Homo sapiens: one gene and its partner. The protein of the gene in region 1 interacts with the protein of each later gene in a biochemical or structural test. Each region holds a gene or a part of one and is shown on either strand. Other genes may lie near its edges.

What was found.
Region 2: of the proteins of COP1 (region 1) and CCT4, one has a biochemical effect on the other in vitro, tested with the Homo sapiens proteins (one study listed by BioGRID).

The regions. Positions count from the first base shown.
Region 1 is NC_000001.11:176,205,535-176,209,283, forward strand, and holds the start of COP1 (E3 ubiquitin-protein ligase COP1), read right to left. Parts: upstream 1,753-3,749; 5' UTR 1,445-1,752; coding exon 1,038-1,444; intron 1-1,037. UniProt on the Homo sapiens protein: E3 ubiquitin-protein ligase that mediates ubiquitination and subsequent proteasomal degradation of target proteins.
Region 2 is NC_000002.12:61,887,197-61,890,945, forward strand, and holds the start of CCT4 (T-complex protein 1 subunit delta), read right to left. Parts: upstream 1,461-3,749; 5' UTR 1,312-1,460; coding exon 1,185-1,311; intron 1-1,184. UniProt on the Homo sapiens protein: Component of the chaperonin-containing T-complex (TRiC), a molecular chaperone complex that assists the folding of actin, tubulin and other proteins upon ATP hydrolysis.

The DNA of each region.
Region 1 (3,749 bases):
CTTCCTACATGCCTAATATTTGATCAACAATTTCCTCAAAAAGGAAAGTACGAAACACTACCACTTCTTAAGCAGCTAGCTAACAGCAATTACTTCTCATAATCCTACCAATATCTAAAATCCAATAAAAATTCCAAAACACTCTCAAGCAAGACAATCAACACCACCTTTCACTTCATATGACTAACCTCTCTATCCCAAATGTCATGACTAAATGTTACTCTGTATCATTCAAGATGCCAACTATGACGACAAAATGTCTATACCTAGCATTTCTCAAGTCAGAAGTTCCAGTATACTCTGTTATCCAGTATAGTACAGTTACATCTGACACAGGGATGTTATTTAACAAACGTGGTTCTCTCTTTTCAAGACACTTGGTGGAGAAGTGAAAAATCTGTTAACAGACTTTGACTACAGTCGTCTCAACAGCCGATTCCTAAGTGGCCCATCCTTTGAAATGGAAGAAGATATTTACACATACATACGATAGGTACTTACATTATTATAAAAAGCATGTCTTTATAAGACATCCATGCTTATGTTTACAGCATCATCTACCATACTTCAAATAAATTTTGACCAACTCCACCCCTCTGCATCCGAGGAAGCTTAGTCCTCTCCATTTGCAAATTTCATTCATCTCAACAAGGACTCCTGATTGACTGAGTGTTCAATTCATCAGAGAGGCAAAAATTTTAAGACTCAACCTCTCTGCCAACTTTGTTATCCAAAACCATTTATTTGACCTTCCACCTCTTCCCTCGTCATTCGTTAAACTCCCTTCACTTCCTCCTCAGCAACACTTACCTACCTCTTTATTATCCCCACCCTGCCTCGCTACTCCAACATTCCTTCACCCCACCAACCAGGAGCTCGAATGCCTGCAAACGCTCGATTCCCTCTGCAGACACCACCACAGCACCAGTATCCCAAGCTCTCCAACAAGCCACCCCCACACCAGACCCCCCGCCCCCAAGCCTAAGCGGCAGAAACTCATAATTTAGGGACAAGGAGGGAGTGCTCTTCAAACCCACCATACGAAGTCGTTGCTTTTGTCCTCGTAGGAGTTGATGAGCCCGTTGCAGAGGGGGGCGAGGAGAGGTCGCTTCCTGCTGCCGCTGCCTAGGCTGGAGCTGCTGCCTCCTACGCCGGCGCTGGGCCTGGCCGCGCAGCTGTGCCGGGACAGGCCCGTGGACACCGCCCCGCCGCCGCTACCCGATACGGCGGGCGCCACCAACACAGGCCGCACCGGGCCCCCGAGGCCGCCCGAGCCGGCGGCCTGGGCCACCCCGCCGGACACCAGCGCTGCCGCCGAAACCGCCACGGAAGGCGGCGACGGGGAAGAGGATAAAGACGAGGAGGCGGAAGTCACCGAGGAGGCCGCCGAGGACCCGGGGCTTGTCCCAGCGGAGCCCGACCCGGCCTGGCGGCTACCAGACATCGTGACTCCCTCCCCTCCAGCCGGGCGCTCGGAGGAGAGGGACCGCGACCTCGACCCTCCGCCGCCTCCCCTCCCCTCAGCCTCAGTGCATCCTGAGGACGCCCGCCGAGCCGGAGGTGGGGCTGAGGAACAATAAAGTTGCGTTTTTTTTTAAGGCAGCCACACAACAGCGTCCCACGGGAGGGGGCGGAGGAAACTAAAAAAGCGGAGTAGAAGGCACTACCGCTGTCGAGGCCGCCGCCGCCACCGCGGTCCCTGTAGCAGCCAACCCCGGCGCGCCGTGGCCGGCCGTGCGCGCGCGCGCGAGCGGCGGAAGAGGCGGGCGTGGCGGGGGATACAACTGGGGACGCAGCGGGGCTGCGCTCAGACGCTCAGGGCGCGCCCTCGGGGTCGGGGCTCCCTGGCGAAGGGAGTCTGTCTGTCCCAAGCCGCTTTCGTTCCAGAAAACGTGCCAGAGGGCAGGCCGTCTTAATACAGTGAAAGAATTGAGGAGACTGGAATGAATGGTATAGGTGGTGGGGTGGTTTGAAAGACGGGAACGTAGCGGGCGGAAACTCTCGAAAAGCGACTGCGCAGGCGCGCGCCGGGCGCGGACGCTCACGGGTCACCCAGGGTATCCGCCCCAAGCGGAGAATATCGGCGCAAGCGCGGAGTAGCCGTGTCACGCATGCGTGCGAACGCACCACATTCCGGAACGGGAAGAAGGAGCTGTCTCTCTCTTCTGAGGGGTAGGCAGGTGCTTCCGAATCGCGGAATGTAGGTGCTCATAAGCTGGAGACCCACGGAAAGAACCTAGAAGCTCCGAGCGGTTGCAGACAGCACTGCATTGAGCCAACGACTCCTGCTCTACTGATGGTGATTCCACAGCTTTGTGAGGAATAAGTTAAGATGAAGTCAGTGAAGTTTTCTGCGAATTGCAAACATTGTAGCAAGTGTTACCAATTTTATTAGTTCGACCACGACTTCACTCCTATATTTTGAAAAGCTGTTTGCCAAATTGAACATAACAATAATGGGAAAACAGATTTTGCTCAATCAGACCCAGCTCAGTCGGAACCTAGGTTTATTGTGGATCTGATATAATTCTAGCACAAAACAAGGAAACCTAGCATTTAATACCACCAGAAAATATACAATTTCTGGTAGGCTTTTTTAGAATATTGAAAATTGATTATAGGCGGGCGCGGTGGCTCATGCCTGTCATCGCAGCACCTTGGGAGGCCTAGGGGGTCGGATCACCTGAGCCTGGAGGTGAGGATCAGGCTGAACCTGAGGTTAGAGACCAGCCTGGGCAAGATAGCGAAACCCCGTCTCTACAAAAAGTACAAAAAATTAGCTGGGCATGGTGGCAGCAGGCCTGTAGTCCCAGCTACTCGGGAGGCTGACATGGGAGGATTGCTTGAGCTGGGGAGGTTGAGGCTGTAGGGAGCGGAGATCCCTACACTCCAGCCTGTGAGACAGAGACCCTGTCTCAAAAAAAAAAATTTTTTTCATTTGCCGCATTCTAAGGGGTGGGAGTTAGAAACAACTGTGTGATTTTATCCTTTTCAATTCTATCATTCTATGATTCTTATATATTTATTTGGGAATAAAGTGTGAAAATACTCATGACTTAGTAAACTACGTGCGTATTCAAGGAGGTAAAGGAAGGCAAAGGTTTTTAAAATTTAAAAAAAAATGAGAATTACATAATTGTTTTTAAACCGTTATCCTTGGCTACGAAGATCAATAACAAGGTGACACCAGTCGGAAACTGGACAGGAAGTTGCTGGGCAGATGTTTTTGCGGAAGTATTTTTTGTGTAAGATTGTGGCTTTTGGCCAGGTGCGGTGGCTGAGGCCCATAATTCCAACACTTTGGGAGGCCAAGGCGAGTGGATCACCTGAGGTCAGGAGTTCGAGACCAGCCTGGCCAACATGACGAAACCCTGTCCCTACTAAAAATACAAAAATTAACCGGGTGTGGTGGCATGCACCTGTAATCCCAACTACTCGAGAGTGTGAGGCAGGAGAATCGCTTGAACCCAGAAAGCGGAGGTTGGAGTGAGCCAAGGTCGTGCCACTGTGCTCCAGCCTGGGCAACAGAGCAAGACTCCATCTCAAAAAAAAAAAAAAGATTGTGGCTTTTGCAGGTTTTTGTGATAGTTTTTGTCATCAGGTGTGCAAGCATGAGACCCCTTCTCTTCATGACCTCTGAATCTATTTTTCAGTGTTTTAAAAAATATATTAGTGACTACCTCCCACCCCCTTTTGTTTAAGAGATGGGGCCCCCCACCCCCTTTTGTTTAAGAGATGGGGCCCCCCAC
Region 2 (3,749 bases), on another chromosome or scaffold:
TTCTGACCTTTCCAACTCATTAGGACAAGTTAGAAACTATTACTTTTTCTTACATCCAGCGTTACCTATCTTAGCGCCATCACATTCCCAGTTACTTGGGCTGATGACTGCAAACACATGTAAGGTGTACTTTATATACGTGGGTCTTTATATGCTTTCTCACTGAATCCTCACAGCAAGCCTACACGATGGCTAAAAAGAAATGATCCCATAGCTGGGGGAGATTAAGCCAAATACTTTCCAGGACACCAGGCCTTTAACATCTGCCCCAACCTAGCTTTCTAATCTCACCTCTTCTGTAAACATACTACTATTCTCCAACCCAAAAGAACTACTATACTCAATATACACTCGGGCAAGATCTCTAAACCTCTGTCCTGACTTTTCCTTCCAGATTTTTCTATTTCAACTCGATTTCTCTTAATCTTAACTCTAAAAAGCAAACATTTTCCTCCAATTTTATAAGTGAATCTTTGGCACAGAGGTTACAGGTCACTAAGACATGAAGTAACGGAAGCAGAGAATGAAACTCTGGTCTTCCTGATTTCCAACGTGTGCCACACACTTCCACAAAAAAAACAAATAATTGTTTCTTGATTTGCCTATGTTTCACTGCACATGCGGAGACGACATCAACGTAACTTTTCCGCAACTATTTCAAACACGACACGTAAGTCGGTTCCCACATCCATCCCAGTACAATGGGCCCCGCCCCAATTTAGACTCGGAGAGTTCACCCAATTCGTCTCAACAGTTGTGCCAAGTGAAGTTTATTTAATAGTTCTTTAAATAAGAATAACAAAGCTGAAAGATACTGTGCATTCTACCAGTTCCAATAAGCAATAAGCGACAGCCCTCAAGCGTCAGATCCCTAGTGAAGACTGCATGCAATCCTCGGCATTTTGAACTGCTTTCGGCTCCAATATGAATGATGCACAGTGCAGGATGAAAAACTAAGGGAGATTAAGATGCAAAATGGGGCAAGTCCAAAGGCCTCCATACTCCGGGTTGGCGATCATCGGCAGAAAAACAGAAATAAGGATCCCTCCACTGGGCTGCTTCTATAGGGAGGACAAGAGAGGATCACCCGAAGAAATGGGAAATGAGCCAAACCCGCTCAAGCCCACGATGAGAGCGCAGAGCACAACCCCGCGGCGCCGCGGGTCAGGCCATGAGAGTGATACCTTTGGCGGCGGAAATGTTGCTGAAGCGGATCTGGGCTGGCTTGTCGCGGTCCTGATAGGCGCCTTTCCCGCGGCCGCCGGCAGCCCCGGCAGTCGCCCCGCTCCGGGGTGCCACATTCTCGGGCATGGCAAACTCCGCTGTGTCTGGGTTGGCTCGGGAAGGACGGATGGACCCGGATTCTGGCCGGCCGCAGTGTAATAACGGTAAGCCCTCACTGCCTTCACGAACCTTCCAGAAAGCGGCGCCGGCGTCGGGAGGAGGCGGAGGCGGAGAAGGGGGCCTTCCTTGCCGCGCGGCGCTGGCGTGACGTAGGAGGCTGTCCGCTGCGCGCCGGGCGAGGAGGATGCGTGCGGTGGGCTCCGGGCTGGCGAGATTGTACGCCCGGGGCGCTGTGGGTGAAGAGCGCCGGGGGAACCTTTACGCGAGGCAGCAATGACAACGCGCGATTTTAAAGGCGAGTGGTGAGGACATCCGCATTTCCTCACTCCACCTTGCACGGCTATGAGGTCCCCTCCTTTTTTTTTTTTTTTTTTTCTTTTTTTGGATACAGTCTCACTCTGTTGCCCAGGCTGGAGTGCAGTGGCGCAAAATCTCGGCTCACTGCAGCCTCCGCCTCCCAGGTTCAAGCGATCCTCCTCAGCCTCCCGAGTAGCTGGGATTACAGGCGTCCGCCACCATGCCCAGCTAATTTTTGTATTTTTAGTAGAGACAGGGTTTCACCATGTTGGCCAGGCCGGTCTCGAACTCCCGACCTCAGGTGATCCACCCGCCTCGGGCTCCCAAAGTGTTGGGATTACAGGCGTCAGCCACGAAGCCCGGCCTTTTTTTTTTTTTTTTTTTTTTTTGACAGAGTCTCGCTCTGTCGTCCAGGCGGGAGTGCAGTGGGGCGATCTTGGCTCACTGCAGCCTCGACCTCCGGGGCCCAAGCGATCCTCCCGCCACAGCCTCCCAACTAGCCAGGACGACAGGTGCCCGCCACCATGCCTAGCGAATTTTTGTATTCGAAACATAGCGAGACTGGGTTTCGCTGTGTTGCCCAGGCTGGTCTGACCTCCCCGGCTCAAAGCGGTCCACCCTCCTCAGCGTTTCAAAGTACTGGGATTACAGGCGTGAGCCACCGCGCCCACCCGGAGGTGCCCTCCTTTAACTCCGGCTGGATCTATCCGCGAGGTGGGGTGGGCGCCGGAATAACTCTCTAAGGGATATGACTGAGTCTGTTTTTGCCCGGCCACATAGACCTGCATTTTATGCAGTTTTGTTCATTTTGAAAGGGAGTCAGAAAAGGGAGATTTGGAATGAGGCGAGGTTAGTTATCTCGTATTGGTTGATACTGGGTGGTGGAGGTTTGACAGACTGCCAAATCAGGTCTGTCTAGTTACCACCGCCCGCTTGTTCTACACTAGTGTCTCCTGCATGACGTAGCCACTGACTCTTAGGGAACGTAAACATTATAATAAAGATCATTTATTTCCGTTATCTGCTAAGCACAGTGCTAAACCTTTACACGTTTTATATCTCGTTTAGTCCTCACAATAATCCTTTACTTAAAAGGTGAGAGAACTGGAGCCCAAAGAAGGAACTGAAGCCCAGGGTAAACGAGTCAGTAGATAGAAGCAGTATTCCAATACAAAGCAAGGACCAGAAGCCATGAGCTAAACTGCTGGTCTCCTATGACCACTATATTTCAGTAGGGAAGTTTATGAAATGAGGTTTGTTGAATGTTCGCTCACAATTATTAAGCACCTGCAAAGTGACAGTTGCGTGTGGTAGGTTCAGAAACAAATGTTCAAAGGTACTTAATCTTGTAATTATGAGGTGGTGGTGGTGTTGTTTGTTTGTTTGTTTTTGTTTGTTTTTGAGACGGAGTTTCACTCTTGTTGCCCAGGCTGGAGCAGTGGCACCATCTCGGCTCACCGCAACCTCCGCCTCCCGGGTTCAAGCGATTCTCCTGCCTCAGCCTCCCCAGTAGCTGGGATTACGGGCATGCACCACCATGCCCGGCTAATTTTGTATTTTTAGTAGAGACGGGGTTTCTCCATGTTGGACAGGGTGGTTTCGAACTCCCGAGCTCAGGTGATAGGCCCGCCTCGGCTTCCCAAAGTGCTAGGATTGCAGGCTTGGCGAGAGCCACCTCGCCAAGTTGTTCTTTAACACACATTTAGCATATTAGCACTAGGGGCCTGGCTCAGTAGCTCACGCCTGTAATCCCAGCACTTTGGGAGGCCGAGGTGGGTGGATCGCTTTAGGTCAGGAGTTTAAGACCAGCCTAGCCAACGTGGCGAAACCCCGTCTCTACTAAAAATCAAAACATTAACCGGGGGTGTAATCCCAGCTACTCGGGAGGCTGAGGCAGGAGAATCCCTTGAAGCCAGGAAGTGGAGGTTGCAGTGAGCCGAGATTGCGCCACTGCACTCCAGCCTGGGTGATAGAGCAAGACTTTGTCTCAAAAAAAAAAAAAAAAAAAAAAGAAGGATATTAGCACTAGGAAATGAAGATCCATAAACCTCTGAGGCCGACTTCTCTTCAGAGGACCAGAATACTCCCAAGTAGCACATAAATTCTAT